Linked DNA regions of Homo sapiens: region 2 is linked to region 1. A link means that fine-mapping ties the variant in region 1 to the expression of a gene that starts in the linked region. Tissue or cell type: whole blood. Region 1 holds a variant in brackets; the other region holds the start of a gene. All regions are shown on one strand. Distances are between the middles of the regions.

Region 1 (8,108 bases):
AACCCAACTAAGAATGTTTCAGGAAGCAAAAGTTTCAGAGATATTTGTGATTCTGCTATTATACTCAGCTTTTCAGCGTTGCTAAGGTACACGGAAAAGCATGAAAAAGAACAGTTAAAATTGTAGAGAGGGGCTGAGCTCTGGAAAGGATTCCTGTAAACTCTAGATGTGAGAGCTTTTTTAAGATTTTGAAGTACTGCTTGAAATTCTATCACCAAGTTGTCAGTGGTAAAGTAGTCTAGTAATGAGACAAAGTCTGACAAATCCCCACGTGGGCTGTGACCCACCAAATGTTCGTGAGAAAGCAGCTTTTTTCTTTTTTAAACACGCAAGAGAGTTCTGATATATGTTTGCCCATATAGAAGTAACAGAAAAAAAAAAAAGAAGTAACGGACACAAGCTACCTGTTACCTGGCAGTACAGAAATGCTTTCTAGTTCTGAGAAGGTGGTAAAGGCATTTAGGTTAGAGTCAAGACACCTTAGTTCTAGTCCTGACTCCCGTAACCACCTTTGTGACTTTGAGCCAATCACTTAATGTCTCAGGGACTCAGTTTCCTCACACAAAAGAGCAAGAAACTTGCTCTCCACAGGGTCTTCCTGCTCTAAATTCTGCAAGTCTTCTGATGGATGAGAATGCTGCTCATGTACACCTGGAGTTTTGTAATGTCCAAAGCTCAGCCCCAGATGGCATCTAAGTTGAATCTCAGGACATTTCAGTGAGGCCACCTACAAGCAGAAAGGAGGCCCAGGGCTAGGGACAGAATGGCCCCAGAGCCAGTCAGCTGCAGCAATTCTTGTGAGAAAGGGAGGGCAAGCTGCCAGAGCAGCTGTGCCCAATATGATGCCTACACGAGACAGATGTCCCCAGTAGAGTGTGTTCAGTGACCTTCTAAACAGAGACACTTCAAGTAGGAAGTGCCGGAAAGGGTAAGAGTAAGAACACTTAAAATTAATAGTATACACATTTATGAAATAAAATTCCTTACCTCAGCATATGTCAGGGAAACTTTACGCTGAAGAAATGATTCTTGGAACCTCAATAGAGGTTAAATTTTAATGAAAATATATAACAGCCTAAACCCCTGAGTGGTGGCACTTTTTTGTCTGCTTATTGGTGATGAGGTGATAGTACGGAGGGTCTATAATATAAGGTTCACTGGGTACCATATATGCCTCCATCATGCAGGGCACTGCAGGTATGAGTCAACAGGACAGACACTGTCCTTGCCCATTGGGAAAAGTGTCTATCACTAAATCCTCACAGCAGTTATCTCTGTTTTACAGGTGAAGGATCAGGCTCAGCCTAGCTAAGTAACCCATGCAAGGTCACACAGCTGCTAATTGAGGGCCAGGATGTGAATCAAGGTCTGCTCATAACCACTAGACAATCACTCAGTACTATAAAACTGGAAAGAGACTGTGGAAGTTGTTTTTTAAATTCTTTTTCCATCCTTCTGTTTGTTTTTTTGGGGGCAAGATCTTTTTAAAAGGTATGATAGTTTTGCCTAAAGGTAGCAACACGGTAGTATTTACTTTCTGGGAGTATAGTTACTCAAGTACAAATATATTAAAAGACAAAGATGTGAACATAATTTGACATAGATAAATGAATTTCATTCAACAATATCATAAAGCATTAAACAAAAGCCACTAAATTTACCTAAAAATCACCTAAATCTAACTCAACTTCTGAGAATCCAACTTCCTAGATAATGCCAGGCCAATGATTCTTTTTGTATACCACAGATTATTTTCTTGAAAAATACCTTCTCTGGGCACCCACAGAACGTCTGCTATGACTCCATAACCTAGTTCAGATTCCTGCTTCAACCTATCTTTGTGGCTTTTTGCAGTTTTCATCTGCTAGTTTCATACTTCTGCACCTTTGCTCACTTGGCCATATTTCCAAGTCTCAGTTCTAACAGCACTCCCATGGTGCCTTTCCCGGTCTTTCTATCCACCCCTGGTAGAAAAGAATTCCTCCCTATGCCTCAGTGTGCCCTACACAGACTTTCATTGTAGCATCTGCAACATTTTATTGCTAAGTTGACTTTACTTCACCTGGACTGTAATGCCTTTGTGGGTAGAACTGATTTTCTTTCTTTTGAAAGGAAATAGGTGCCAGTGTCTGGCACCTAATAGGTCCAGAATGAATGTTTTTTCAATATGTTTGTAAATTGTATTGCTATTCCTGACCTGTCTACTATAAGTGGGTTCATATAAACCAGTCTTTCTCAAAGTTCAGCCCTCAGACTCTTTGCACCTGAATTAGATACTTATTTAAAAAGGCAGATTCTTATACCTCATCCCAGATATAACAAGTCAAAACCTTCAGCAATTCTGGGTGAATACAGCCTAGGTACAGGAAGACAAATGGTTACTACATGCACTGGCAAGAGAGCTAGGTGTCTGGCCCTATCTATGTCTCTAAGTAGCTGTGGAACTTGAACTTCAATTTTTCTCATCTTAAGTCAAATTTCTAGAGATCATCCCTTTCACTTACAAAAAACTCTACACAGTATTGGTCCTGATTCTTTGACAGTATACAGATATAAATCCAAATGACATGGAAAAGGCTGGCATGGCCTTATAGTAAGCTTACAGAAAATTTACAGGGCCCAGTTTTTTTGGTCAAGAGGCATGTTGTCATGGAAAAAGCACTGGCTTGGGATCAAGATAGCCCACGGTCTTAGCTGTATGAATTTAGGTGGCATAAATTCCCACCTCAGTTTCCCCAAAGGGATAGCAAGCCCTTAACAGCACTCTGAGAATCAAGAATGGTGGCACACAGCAGTTTGTCAAACCTAGTTCCCTCTCTGTCTTTTCTCTTCCTACTTTCACCCTGGTAGTTTCCTTTCTTTTGCCAAGTATTTATCTGCTTTACTTCCACAGAAGGAAGGTGCTCTGTTATTAGAGACTTCGAGAGTTGTTAGAGGTAGAAAAAAACTTCAGGGTATAACCTAAAAACATCAGGAGAAAAAAAAATACCTTCAAAAGCCACACATGAAGTATAGTAACAGTCAGAAGCAGGTTTTAGTTTCTCAGTTCCAAAATTGGAAATTCTGCTTATTTACTAGCCGATTAACTAGGGCAATTTACTATTTAAACCTCACTTTTAATAATAAAATAGGAATAATAGTACTTCTCAGATTTTCTTTTAATATGGTGCTTATACATGTGTGTACCAAGTGCCACATACCAAGCTGTACCAGATATTAACTCATTGAATCCTCTGAACAACTCTGATCCTAGGTACTACATTACCTCTACTTTATAAAAGTGGAAAATGAGATATAGAGAATGAGATAGAGAATGTATCACCAATAACCAGGGAAGACAGGATTCAAACCTAGGCAGCCTGGCACTGCAGTCCAAGTTCTTAGCCACCGTGCTATGGTGTCTCTCAACGTTGCACAAGTTAGTTTTAACAAAGTTCCATAAGCACACAGTAAGAGGTAGTCATTACACAAAGAGCAGTTAGCCTATGGTGTCTATTCATCTATTGCACGATTGATATGTAAATGATTAACCTAGGTGTCACCCAGGCATCTTTAATTTGTAACTGCAGCTGAATTAATTATATTCAGCTCATTCTGAGTTTATATTTGATGCAATTAAATATATTCCACGAAAATGAGATACTTGGTATCTAATAAAGAACATTATGGTCAGGCGCGGTAGCTCACGCCTGTAATCCTGGCACTCCGGGAGGCCAAGGTGGGTGAATCACTTGAGGTCAGGAGTTCGAGACCAGCCTGGGCAACATAGTGAAACCCCCC[G/CG]TCTCTACTAAAAAATACAAAAGTTAGGCCGGGTGCAGTGGCTTACGCCTGTAATCCCAGCACTTTGGGAGGCTGAGGAGGGCAAATCACAAGATTAGGAGTTCGAGACCAGCCTGGCCAACATAGTGAATCCCTGACTCTATTAAAAATACAAAAATTTAGCTGGGTGTAGTGGCGGGCGCCTGTAATCCCAGCTACTCAAGAGGCTGAGGCAGGAGAATCACTTAAACCCAGGAGGTGGAGGTTGCAGTGGGCCAAGATCGTGCCACTGCACTCCAGCCCTGGTGACAGAGTGAGACTCAATTTCAAAAAAAAAAAAAATATATGTGTGTGTATGTGTGTGTGTGTGTGTGTGTGTGTGTGTGTGTACAAACAAAAAAATTAGCCGAGAGTGGTAGTGCATGCCTGTAGTCCCAGACACTCGGGAGGCTGAGGCAGGAGAATAACTTGAACCCAGGGCCGGGGCCGGGGCGGGGAGCGGTGGAAGTTGCAGTGAGCCAAGGTTGCGCCACTGCACTACAGCCAGGGTGACAGGGTGGGATTCTGTCTCGAAAAAAAAAAAAAATTACTGATCAATGGGAAATAAACAGAAGCCTCCATAAACACTTCAAGGGCAGATGTGGACTCGCAATCCAAAACTCATGCAGCTGGTGCACATATGATCACATTCTCTACTACCAAAAACTCTGGATGCCCCTCCTTTTTGTTGAGAGAAAACTGATTAAAGACTTCTTTTGGGAAGCAGTATAGCACAGTGGTTAGCAGCATGGATTTTGCAGTTAGGCTTTAATTTGAATCCTGGCTTTCCAGATACAAGTTGTGTGAAAAATTTACTCAAATTCTACATATCAGTAGCCACATTGGTACCATCTTCCGGCAGTCGTTGTTAGAATTAAATGAGAATAGGGCCGGGCGCGGTGGCTCACGCCTGTAATCCCAGCACTTTGGGAGGCCGAGGCGGGCGGATCACGAGGTCAGGAGATCGAGACCATCCCGGCTAAAACGGTGAAACCCCGTCTCTACTAAAAATACAAAAAATTGGCTGGGCGTAGTGGCGGGCGCCTGTAGTCCCAGCTACTTGGGAGGCTGAGGCAGGAGAATGGCGTGAACCCGGGAGGCGGAGCTCGCAGTGAGCCGAGATCCCGCCACTGCACTCCAGCCTGGGCGACAGAGCAAGACTCCGTCTCAAAAAAAAAAAAAAGAATTAAATGAGAATAGATGGTAAGTGATAAGCACAGTGTCCAGCACACAGAAAGCATAAAAAGTCACTATTTTAACTTTATTAATATTTTATTCTAATAATATCATTCCTTTTCTGAATATCTGTTTAATGAAAAGTTGCTTACATTACAAATTTTGTTTCTATTCTAAGAAAGATACACAGAAGTGATGTTCCTTGTATCACTATTTCAGTCATATTGTTTCAAGAATGCATTAGTACATAAAGCCTTTTCACATGCATTAACTTTATCCTCAACCTGAAAAGTAGATGTAACCACTCCCCCATTTTATGGGTTAGCAAACACAAGCTCAAAGAGGACAAATGACTAACCCAAGGTCAAAGTTATCAAGTGCCAAAATTCAATCCAGCCCTTCTAACCCTAGATTCTTCCCATCATATTTTAACTACTAAAGAGAAATAAATATCTCCTTTAAATGGCCTTATTGTCCAGAATATCCTAAAGAACTCCACATTTACTGGTTGGCAATGGCATTCTACTGTGAGCAAGAGCCTTTTCCTTCTCCCCCATTCATCTTCAGCATGGATTCCTGTTTTTCTCCCAGTGGTTTATAATTCACTTCTGTCCTTAATTATTCCGTTGATCAAATTGTCTCAGATTTGTCACAAGCTGGCCTCTGGGTCCTTGTGACATGCTCCCATCAGTTTTCTCTTAAATAACATTTTAAGATTAGCTATTATTTTTCCTATTTAAAAGCTGTAAGTTATATGTGAATAGACATTTATCCACAACTTTTCTCCCAAGTTGATCATCTTACTTAAATATCTGTCAAGCACACCACCATACCCTGGGTAAACTTTTCAGGTGCTCAAAGAAAGGTATTGTCACACACAAAAAATACTGCAAAATCTGCTACAAAGCTAGCTAGCTAGAACTGATAGGGAAACTACAGGGAAACAAAGGCAAAAACATATAAGGCAATTTCACTCTGTTATTTATATGTTTATTTTTAGTTTACAATAAGCTGTCCAAATGCTCCTTATAAAATCACTCTTCTTTTACTTTATTCTCACTGAACATCCCAGACAGGCCACTGGGCAATTAGTCAAGTGAAGGTGATGTGCGACCACATAAGCCAGACCACGCCAGGCCACAATTTAGATAAAAAAATGTCTTTTCTCATGCGAAAGAATAAAGAACTAAGAAAAGCAGCATCTCTTGGAGAGCTGTTTTAGAACCAGGGTAGTGATATAGCAGAATATAAACCTGATCTTCCATTTTTAAAACCTGCTAAGATTCCAGAGCATGAACATTACAATTTAGAGAACTGGAGGAAAATTGCCAAACACTCCTTTGTTGACCTAAATCTTGATTTAAGCCACAGAATGTGTTTCCAACACCCTAGATCTTTTATCAAGGAAATTACACTTACCTCTAGTTACATAGTTTTATGTGGAGCAGACCTGCAATTGAGTATTATGGTCAGGCTTCAGTGCTAGAGAAATCCTGTTGAGGACTGAGGGCAATGATAATTAGAAAAGTGGAGTGGGTAAGCAGCAAGTGATTATCTCTCCATCTCCCATACACCAGGAGGCCTGGCCCAGCTCAGCCCAGCTCAGCCCAACCCACCCCAGCCCAAACCCAGAGGAAACGAGTCTGCATGCAGACATTCAAACTAGATTCAGCACCAGTATCAAACAACTACACCAATCCCCAGCCAAACTGGCAAATTAACAAAATGTGGGGGTTTTAGCTCTACTATTCTGCAAGCCCTCTTAGATTTTTACCACAGTGCTCATGGTATCCACCCTACAGCTGCTCCAAATCCTCCAGCTCTGCTTCTTCAAAAACAAATAAACCCTTGTTGCTTCCCCATCTCCTCCCCAAACAAATCTCATTTTTCCAAATATCAGGGCAGAGGTTTGATGATCTGGCTAATTCATGCTTATTAGTCATGATGCTTAGTCTTTCCGGAGAACATTTTCATTTTAAGGGGAAAATGGCAAGGGGATAGAACATATATTTGAGAGAAAGCAATCTCTGGTCTGTTCTCTGGCCTTTTGATATCTAGCACCAAAGAGGCTGAAAGTAAAACCAAATTAATCAGCCTGAGATCATTACATAAGCCGACCATCCTCTTCTATTTCTCTCCTTTTTCCAAGTATCCAGCAAGGCCACCGGGCACTCCCACATGGGGCAAATCACCTGTGACTCCTCCTAAACTCAACCACATATAAAACTTACTCAAACCTCCAAGAAATCATTGTTTCAGGATGATCCACATGTGGGAATAATAAGCCAAAAAGCACAATTCAGAAGGTCTTAATTATTATTTCACCCTAAGCTAGTCTTGGAAACATTGGCCTGGTTTTTTTCTTTTAATTTAAAATATTATGACAAATGTTTTTCTATGGTTTTCAAAACTGCTGTTTTTCTTCAGTCACTTTTTTTTTTTTTCGTTTTCTTTTTAACAGCTGCTGGCTGGCTGGTGTTCTTTCTGCTCTATGAACCAGCAATGGAGGGTGGAAGACAGCTGCACTTTAAATGAATCTGAAAGATCTGAAAATATCTTCTCTTGCCCACCTAATACTGCAGAAATAGAATAAGAAGAAAAATAATAAAGCAGAAGACAAACGTCAGGAAAGCAAAAGTATGAGAAAGGTACTTTGTATGATCTATAGACTACTGTCTTAAAATTTCAAATTAAAGTAGATTTGGCAATAGAAAAATTCTGCCCAGAAACAAATCACATTGTAGTTGTCTAGATGTCTGCTTCCATCGATGTATAACAACTTATGTACTTTTACAGTTTATGTAAAAGTAACATACAGTAATGGCTGAAACAGTATCTATTCATCAATTAATAACCCAAAACAAATGCCACAAATGCATTTAAGAACAGTTGCTCAGAAAAGAAAAAAAAAATTAAAATAACAAGCTTCACATTTGCCTAGGATTTAACACTGGAATCCACTAAAAGATCTGGGTATAAAATCCTACTCATGACTATATTATTTCATGTTTCTAGTAATATTATAGATGAAAATAATAAAATTATCAACCATAAGCCAATGCCAATGATAAAATCCTGGAAAGCGTTCACTGTCTTATCTCCATGTCCACTAGGCTGTGTGGATAGAAATCTAA
Region 2 (8,108 bases), 47 kb after region 1:
GCAAAATAAGGATCTTCTTTTCCTGAACTGTTTATATGTTCAATTCAAATATCTTTGTTTCTGGTATAGGCCTGGTAAGTTTGACTAGTTAAAGAAATAACATGTCAGTAGATATCAATACAGTGAAAATTCAGGGGTAATAAAAGGATCAAAGTTAAGTATGTGGTCCACTGATATTTTATAAGGTCCCTAAGGCCAAGTTAAATTCAAACTCACATGAAGCATTCAGTACACATATCAGAGCTGCAAAGGTCCTTATCAGCATCCCTAAAGCATCTGTTTCTCCTCTACCAAATGAAAAGCTACTTATACAATTCAGATTGAATATCTCTGCATTTATCTTAAATTTTTCTACAGAAATTCATAGTTCTGTAAGCCTTTTCCCTCTTTCACACACACTGGTATCCCTGGCCATCTCAGCCTTTCCACTATAAACAAAACCCATGTACCACCCATATCTGAAGTATAACGCCAGACTCCTGCTTAGCTACCCCTGTAATATGGTTTAATTATGATGACTGAACTAATAGGCTGACATCATAGACTTTTACAGGCTGACCCCATGTCATCCTGATGTATCATTTTGCACCAGTTCAGTGCTGTAAATCAATTTAAGATCTCAAGCAGGTTGAAAAGGCTGGTAATGATGCTTTCTCTGCCGTCTCTGGAGACTCTACATTATACCCAACTTACATTATTTATAAAGCCTCAGTGATGCCTCCATTAGCCTTGTAAGACTACACAAATGAGATCTTTTATACACACACACTTGGCCTTGATTATGTAGGCTACTGCAGCTTAAACATGCTAGTCTAATTACTATACCCAAGCTACTTCTTTTTCCAATCTACTAGGTTATTAGATTTAATATTTAACCCAGAATTGCTAGAAATCAAAATTACAAAGTGAAATTTAGTTTTTAACTAATAAATGTAATAAACGTAGTTGAGAAAATGTGACAACTTCCTCTTAATGCCTTAATGAACTTAGTAAAAATAACATAAAATTCCAAGAAGTGTAAGAGGCCAATGTCTTTAATTGCCTAAAAATTGTCATTTCTCTAAAACACAAAGGTCATCAGCTCTTCAAGGATACGAAACCAAAGGATACTGCAAGAGGTAAAATGTATTTGGTTACATACCTATGGTTGTAGGGGTCAAAACTAAATCAAGGACAAATCCCTACCCTCAGAAGAAACTCGATCCTGCCTGGATCCTCTAGAGGCTCTGGCATCACCCACCTCCAGAAAAATCATCTCTCACGACCCTAGCTACACCTTCCTAAGAACTGCAGTATTACACCAATGATACACCACCTGCACAGAAATAGCAAATAATTGCAAATGGGAAAGAGAGTGGGAGAGGGCAGAACAAACACTTTAATCAGTACAGCATATTTAGATCTGGCACCTACATCAGAATAACACTGATGCAACAATATTTATACCAATTGAAAATGCTGGGGCAGTGAACACTTCTGTTCCGATTCTTTTTTAACACGGTCCACCTACCTTCAATACAATTTAAAGTAATTACAAACAATTTGAAAAATCAACATGGGCAGGGAACAGTTTTCTCATTGTGTTACTGAGGTGTGGGCAAGTTATCCACAACAGGCAATTAGACCCAGAGATGTTCTGAAATAGAGGCATTCTGAGATTTAGCGGCTGAGAGTTTCAGCAACAGGAAGAAATAACAGAAATCATGCAACTTCTGTATCATTCCACGTACTTTGAAACTTCAGATACAATGGAAAGAAAAGAGGGGGGAGGGCAGAGAAAAAGGACAGTTGTCTCAGCACTCACGAAAAGGATGCTTTCTCAGGAGATGGTTCTGAGACCGGCCTCAATTTTCAGAAGGAACGCGCCTTTACTGGTTATCTTGCACCGTGTATTTAAAAATTGCATGCTCTTCAAAATAAACAAAAGCTCAGCTACTGTAGCTGTGAGATCTGGCAGGCATTTGTTCCTCCTCCCCTCCTAAAGCACATCAAGAAAACGTTCTCCCTTTAAAGCCTTCATACAGTTTCAGCAACTAGAAAAACAAGCCCACATCTGTCTCTCACGCCCACCACCCCCACCTTCCTACAGAAACAACCCCGAGAAACACTAACAAAGACAGGGAGCAGAGTAAAGGAACAGTTGTTCAACCGCGAACTCACGAATACACATGCAGTGAGGCAATCGACTCCGGTAAAGGGAAAGGAACGAGACACCAGGAGACGCAGCGGGTGTAGGCGGAAGAGGGGGAAAAAATTACGCGCCGCCGCCAAACCTTTGAATAAATTAGAGGGGATCTCGGTGCGAACTTTCCTTGACCTCGACCCCAAAGAGGCTTGCTGGGGCCGAGAAGAAAACCCGTGCGGGATGTGGAGGGGCCCGGGGCGCCGGGGTCCCCCGCCCGCGAGACCCGCTCCACCAGGCGCCTTGGAGAGCAGCGCCAGCGGTCGTCCTCCAGCTCCCGCAGGGGTCGCCCCGCCGGCGCGGGGGACACAATGGGTCCGCGGGCCACGCGAACGGGCCTCGGCCCGGCGGCAGCACGGGAGAGATGTGAGGAGCGCGCGGAAGGGGAGCGCGGCCGGGGAGATCCCAGCGCGGTCAGGCCCGGGAGCCGAGGCTCGGGGGCCCGGGAACTGGGCTTCCCACAGCAGAAGACCCAACAAAGACACCAGGGGAGCCCGGCGGGCTGGGCGCGAGAAGACGTGGTAGCAGGTTCGCTCCTCCGAGCAGACGGGAGGCGCCATCATGGGGGGGGGGGGTCGCGGCCCGCCCCGCGCAGAAAGAGCCCCCTTCCCGCCGCTGCCCGCGCCCCCAGCCCAGCACGACCGCGGCGGCCCCACGCGTGCAGAGACGGCGGCGGCGGCGCTGGAAAGCCCGGGGCGCCGAGGGGAGGGCTGGGACGCGGCATGAAGGGAAAGTTCGGTTCGGGTCTGTTTCGTTTTACCGGGTTGGCGGCGCGCCCGTCCGTGTGGGAGCACGAGTGGCCGGGCGAGCGGGGTCTCGCGGCCCGGGTCCGGACGGCCGGGCGCTGCGCCACTCTCCGCTCCCCGAGCCTCGGCCCGGGTTGAGCCGCTCGGCCTCTCCTTTCTCCGCCCGCCCGCCTGCTTTCTCCTGGAGCCTGGATTGATCTGGTCGCGCTGGCGTCAGGGAGTCGGAGCTGCCCAGCCTCCACTCCTCAGCTGCCAATACCCGGCGCACTCGCCTGCCCGCCCGCCCGCTCACACGCTCACCCGCTCACCCGCGCGCCGCCGCCGCTGCCGCGCGACCAGGGATCCTCTCCAAATTCCCGGCCCGGCCGGCGTGAGCGCAGCGCGGCCGGGGCCGGAGGACGGCGCGGGGGAGCGGCCGGAGCCACCCCCTTCTACCGGCAGCCCCACGCCCCGTTTCTTCCTGGAGAAAAAACAGTGTGGCGGCGTTCAGGCTTTCCTAACCCTGCCTTTTTAGTCCCGGTGGAGCGGACTTAGTCCATTATCTGCAAGTGAATTTCGATGTTCCATATGTTTATTTTCTGAAATGTTCATTAACGCTTCCACCGCGCCCACTGAATCGTTCTATAAACGTGGAGTGCATGTTGACAGTTACCTTTCGAGACGCGCCCTTTTATGTCTATCTTTCGTTGCCCCTCACTCACTCTCCAATAATTTGCAGGCCCCAGAAGTTGTACGTACCCAGAATTGGATAGCCTAGTAAATACTGCACGTGGTTATACAAACCCTGAGTCAACAGATGCGTTTTGTGTCAACTCAGGATCCAGTGATTCGAGTAGGTAACCTTGTTGCTCCAAATAATGGCATGCCATAAGGAGATACTGCTTTAGAACTCCACATTTTTGGTCCAATTTCTACAGTCTTTTAGATGATGCCAACTCCCCCGCACTTAACTCTTACCTACCTGATCTGCATAGACATTGAAAATATCTTCTTGCAAGAGTCAACTTTTCTCTTGGCTAACTCTTGAAGCTGCATAAAATCTTGCATAATTACTATAATGTTGAGTTACGTTTAGAAAAAATGATTTTTTTTTGAGGAATAAATTTCACATGAAGCAAAAAAAAAAAAAAAAAAATCACTCCCAGCAATGTATATCAGAATATGTCTTCTAATTAAATTCCTTTTTCCCTTAACCTATTTGAGCACTTACTGGTCAATTCGTGGGCCTCATCTTATTTTCCCTAAAAGCAGCGTTTGACGCAGTTGATCATTCTCTGCTCCTTAGAACAACAGGAAAGTGAACCTTGTTAAATGCCACTCGGATCAGGCCACTCCTCTGTTGAAAACCCTCCCTTGATAAATAGTATAAAGTATCCCATACAAGAGAACATTATTCAGCCATAAAAAGGAATGAAGTACTGATACTGATGCATGCTACATGGATAACCTTTCAAAACGTGAAGGGAAAGAAGACAGACCACACATTGTATTCTTCCACATATGTGAAATGCTCAGAGTAGGCAAGGCTATGGAGACAGAAAGTAGATTGGTGGTTTGCATAGGGTTGGGGAAATGAGGAACCTGGGGAGTGACAGCTAAAGGTTATGGGGTGACAAAATTGTTCTAAAACTAGTTTCTGGTGATGGTTGCACAACTCTGTGCATATACCAAAAGCCATTAAATTGCACACTTTAAATGGGTCAATCATTTGGTATGTGAATTTTACCTCAAGCTATTAAAAAAAAAGCATGACAATGAAATGCAGTATATGACCTTGATTGGATCCTGAATGGGGAGGAGGAGCTATAAACTGTCATTTTAAAGTCGTTAATTTTTAAAAAAATCAAAAATGGCATTTATTTAATTTTGAGACGGAGTCTCGCTCGGTCGCCCAGGCTGGAGTGCAATGGCACGATCTCGGCTTACTGCAACCTCTGCCTCCCGGGTTCAAGCAATTCTCTTGCCTCAACCTCTCGAGTAGCTGGGACTACAGATACACACCACCACGCCCATCTAAGTAGAGACGGGGTTTCACCATTTTGGCCAGGCTGGTCTCAAACTCCTGGCCTCAAGTGATCCACCCGTCTCAGCCTCTCAAAGTTCTGGGATTACAGGCATGACCCACCGCGCCCAGCCTAGATGGCCTTTCTTAGTGCAGTCCTAGTAGTCTTAAATGATAACTATTAATATTATTATGTATGCAATAAAATTTGATTTTGCCCATTGTGCAAATTATTTCCTTAAATGATAATAAAAATTTGGATATTCTTTTTAAAAGGACATTGATGAGACCATTATAAAAACCTAAATATGGACTGTATATTAATATCATTTTATTAAATTTTTAAAAAATCCTCCCTTGGGTCCTCATTTCACTCAGAATAAAAGTTCCCATAATAAGCACAAGACTCTACATAATCTTTCCTTCCCCTCCTTTAGCACTCTGACCTGCACTTCTACTCTTCCTCTTGCTCACTTCCCCAAGTCACACTGGCATCCTCACTCTTCTGGAACAATCTGGGCACATTCTCACCTCAGTATCTATGTGCTAGCTGTTCCCTCCCTTTCTGAGTTCATTTTGTGTTGCTGTAATAGAATACCACTGATAGAGTTTGGCTATGTATCCCCACCCAAATCTCATCTTGAATTGTAGCTCCCATAACCTCCATGTGTCATAGAAGGGACCTGGTGGGAGGTAATCGAATCATGGGGGTGGGTTCTTCCCATGCTGTTCTCGTGATTGTGAATAAGTCTCATGAGAATCTGACGGTTTTATAAAGGGCAGTTTCCCTGCACACGCCCTCTTGCCTGCTGCCACGTAAGATGTGCCTTTGCTCCTCCTTCACCTTCTGCCATGATTGTGAGGCTTCCCCAGCCGTGTAAAACTGTGAGTCCATTAAACCTTTTTTTTTTGAGACAGAATCTCACTCTGTCACCCAGGCTGGAATGCAGTGATGCAACCTCAGCTCACTGCAACCTCTGCCTCCAGGGTTCAAGCAATTCTCCTGCCTTGGCCTCCCAAGTAGCTAGGACTACAGGCATGCACCACCACGCCTGGCTAATCTTTTTTTGTATTTTTTAGTAGAGACGGGGTTTTGTGGTGTTAGCCAGGCTGGTCTCAAACTCCTGAGCTCAGGTGATCCACCTGCCTTGGCCTCTCAAAGTGCTGGGATTACAGGCGTGAGCCACCGTACCCAGCCCTAAACCACGTTTTCTTTATAAATTACCCAGTCTTGGGTATTTCTTCATAGCAGTATGAAAATGGACCAATACAACCACCAGCTGGGCAGTTTATACACAATAAAAGTTAATTTAGCTCATGGTTCTGGGGGCTGAGAAATCCAAAATCAAGGGGCTGCATCTGGTGAGGGCCTTCTTCCTTCATCACAACATAGCAGAAGGCATCACATAGCAAGAGAGAGAACATGAGAGGAAGGGTAGAAAAGGGCCAAACTCATGCTTATATCAGCAATCCCCTCCTGAGATACCAAACCGCACTCCCATAATGCCATTAATCCATTCATGAGGACAGATCCCTGTTAAAAGAAAAACTTTAGGCAAATTAAATTTAACAGAGTTTAATTGAGCAAAGAGCAATTTGAGAACTGAGCAGCCCCCAGAACCAGAATAGTTTCAGAGCAACTCTGGGGCTGCCACAGGGTCAGATGATGTTTATGGGCAGAGAAAGAAAAGTGACAGAAAATGGAGTGAGGTACAGAAAAAACTGGATTGGTTAGAGCTAAATATTTGCTTTATTTTAACACAGTTTGAACAGTTGGCTGCCTGTGATTGACCAAAACTCTGTGATTGGTACAAGAGTTGGCTACAGTCTGTTTGCATATCCAGTTAGGTTACAGTTTGCTGTGTACAGAGAAACCTTTAGGCCTAACTTAAAATATGTATGGGCCGGGCGTGGTAGCTCACGCCTGTAATCCCAGCTACTCGGGAGACTGAGGCAGGAGAATCAGTTGAACCCGGCAAGCGGAGGTTGCGGTGAGCCAATATCATGCCATTGTACTCCAGCCTGGGCAACAAGAGCAAAACTCCGTCTCAAAAAAAAAAAAAAAAAAATATATATATATATATATATATGTGTGTGTATATATATGTATATACATATGTACATATGTATATATACGTATATATATATATATGGAGGCAGCTTTAGCCTAAACTTAATTTAACAGTCCTCATGACATAATCACCTCTTGAAGTTCTCACCTCTCAACACTGTTGCGCTGGGGATTAAGTTTACAATATATAAACTTTGGGGAATGCATTCAAACCATAGCACTCCCTGGACAGCTCTTCCCACAGATGTCCACATGGCTCACTCCTTCATCTCCCTCAAGTCTTCACTCAAATGTCTCCGTATTATTTAGCCAAAAGAGCAGGATTTTTGGTCTTCTGTGTTCATTGCTATAATCTCAGCACCTGAGCAGTGCCTGGTATTTAACAGGAGCATATTAAATACCTGTTGAATGAATGAGTAAGTGAAGCACTGTTCTAGCAGGGGATATGGTGGCAAGCAGAAAAAAATCCCTGCCCTCATTAAGGAAGACAGATAATAAATAAATACACGGCCAGACGTGGTGGCTCACACCTGTAATCCCAGCACTTTGGGAGACCGAGGTGGATGGATCACGAGGTCAGGAGTTCAAAACCAGTCTGGCCAGCATGGTGAAACTCCATCTCTACTAAAAATACAAAAAAAAAAAAAAATTAGCCGGGCATGGTGGCATGTGCCTGTAGTCCCCGCTACTTGGGAGGCTGAGGCAGGAGAATCACTTGAACCCGGGAGGCAGAGGTTGCAGTGAGCCGAGATCGTGCCGCTGCACTCCAGCCTGGGCGACAGAGCGAGACTCCATCTCAAAAAAAAAAATAAATAAATAAATAAATAAATACGCAAATATGCTAGGTAGTGGTACAAGTGATGGAAAAAACAGGGGAAGAGGGATTGAGAATGGGAGAGATGACTATTTCTAAAGGGGCAGAGGAAACCTCACTGCAAGAGGTCCTGAAGGAAGGGAAGGAAGCACAGTACACACTCTGAGGGATGAGTTCCCAACCTCCCAAGCAAAAGGAAGAGCAAGTGTAAAGACCTAGAAGCTGAGTCTACTTTACACATCCACTGAAAAGCTGGGGGGCAGGGTTGGGGACAGTGCAGTGATGTAGGAAAA

The links. PIP is the estimated chance that this variant, and not a neighbour inherited with it, causes the effect.
Region 2: it holds the start of SMAD1, and the variant in region 1 is fine-mapped to the expression of SMAD1 in whole blood (INTERVAL, PIP above 0.99).

Annotation. Positions count from the first base shown.
Region 1 is chr4:145,524,101-145,532,208 of GRCh38, reverse strand. The region is part of intron 2 of SMAD1 (SMAD family member 1); the gene reads right to left. Among named protein-coding and RNA genes, the nearest start is that of SMAD1-AS1, 11 kb to the right of the region's middle. The variant G/CG (reference allele first, on the strand shown) is at 3,781.
Region 2 is chr4:145,476,873-145,484,980 of GRCh38, reverse strand. SMAD1 (SMAD family member 1) reads right to left here and starts at 3,128. Exons shown (of 7, transcript NM_005900.3): 1 at 2,943-3,128. RefSeq lists silencers at 2,310-2,409, 2,500-2,559, 2,900-3,059, 3,230-3,359.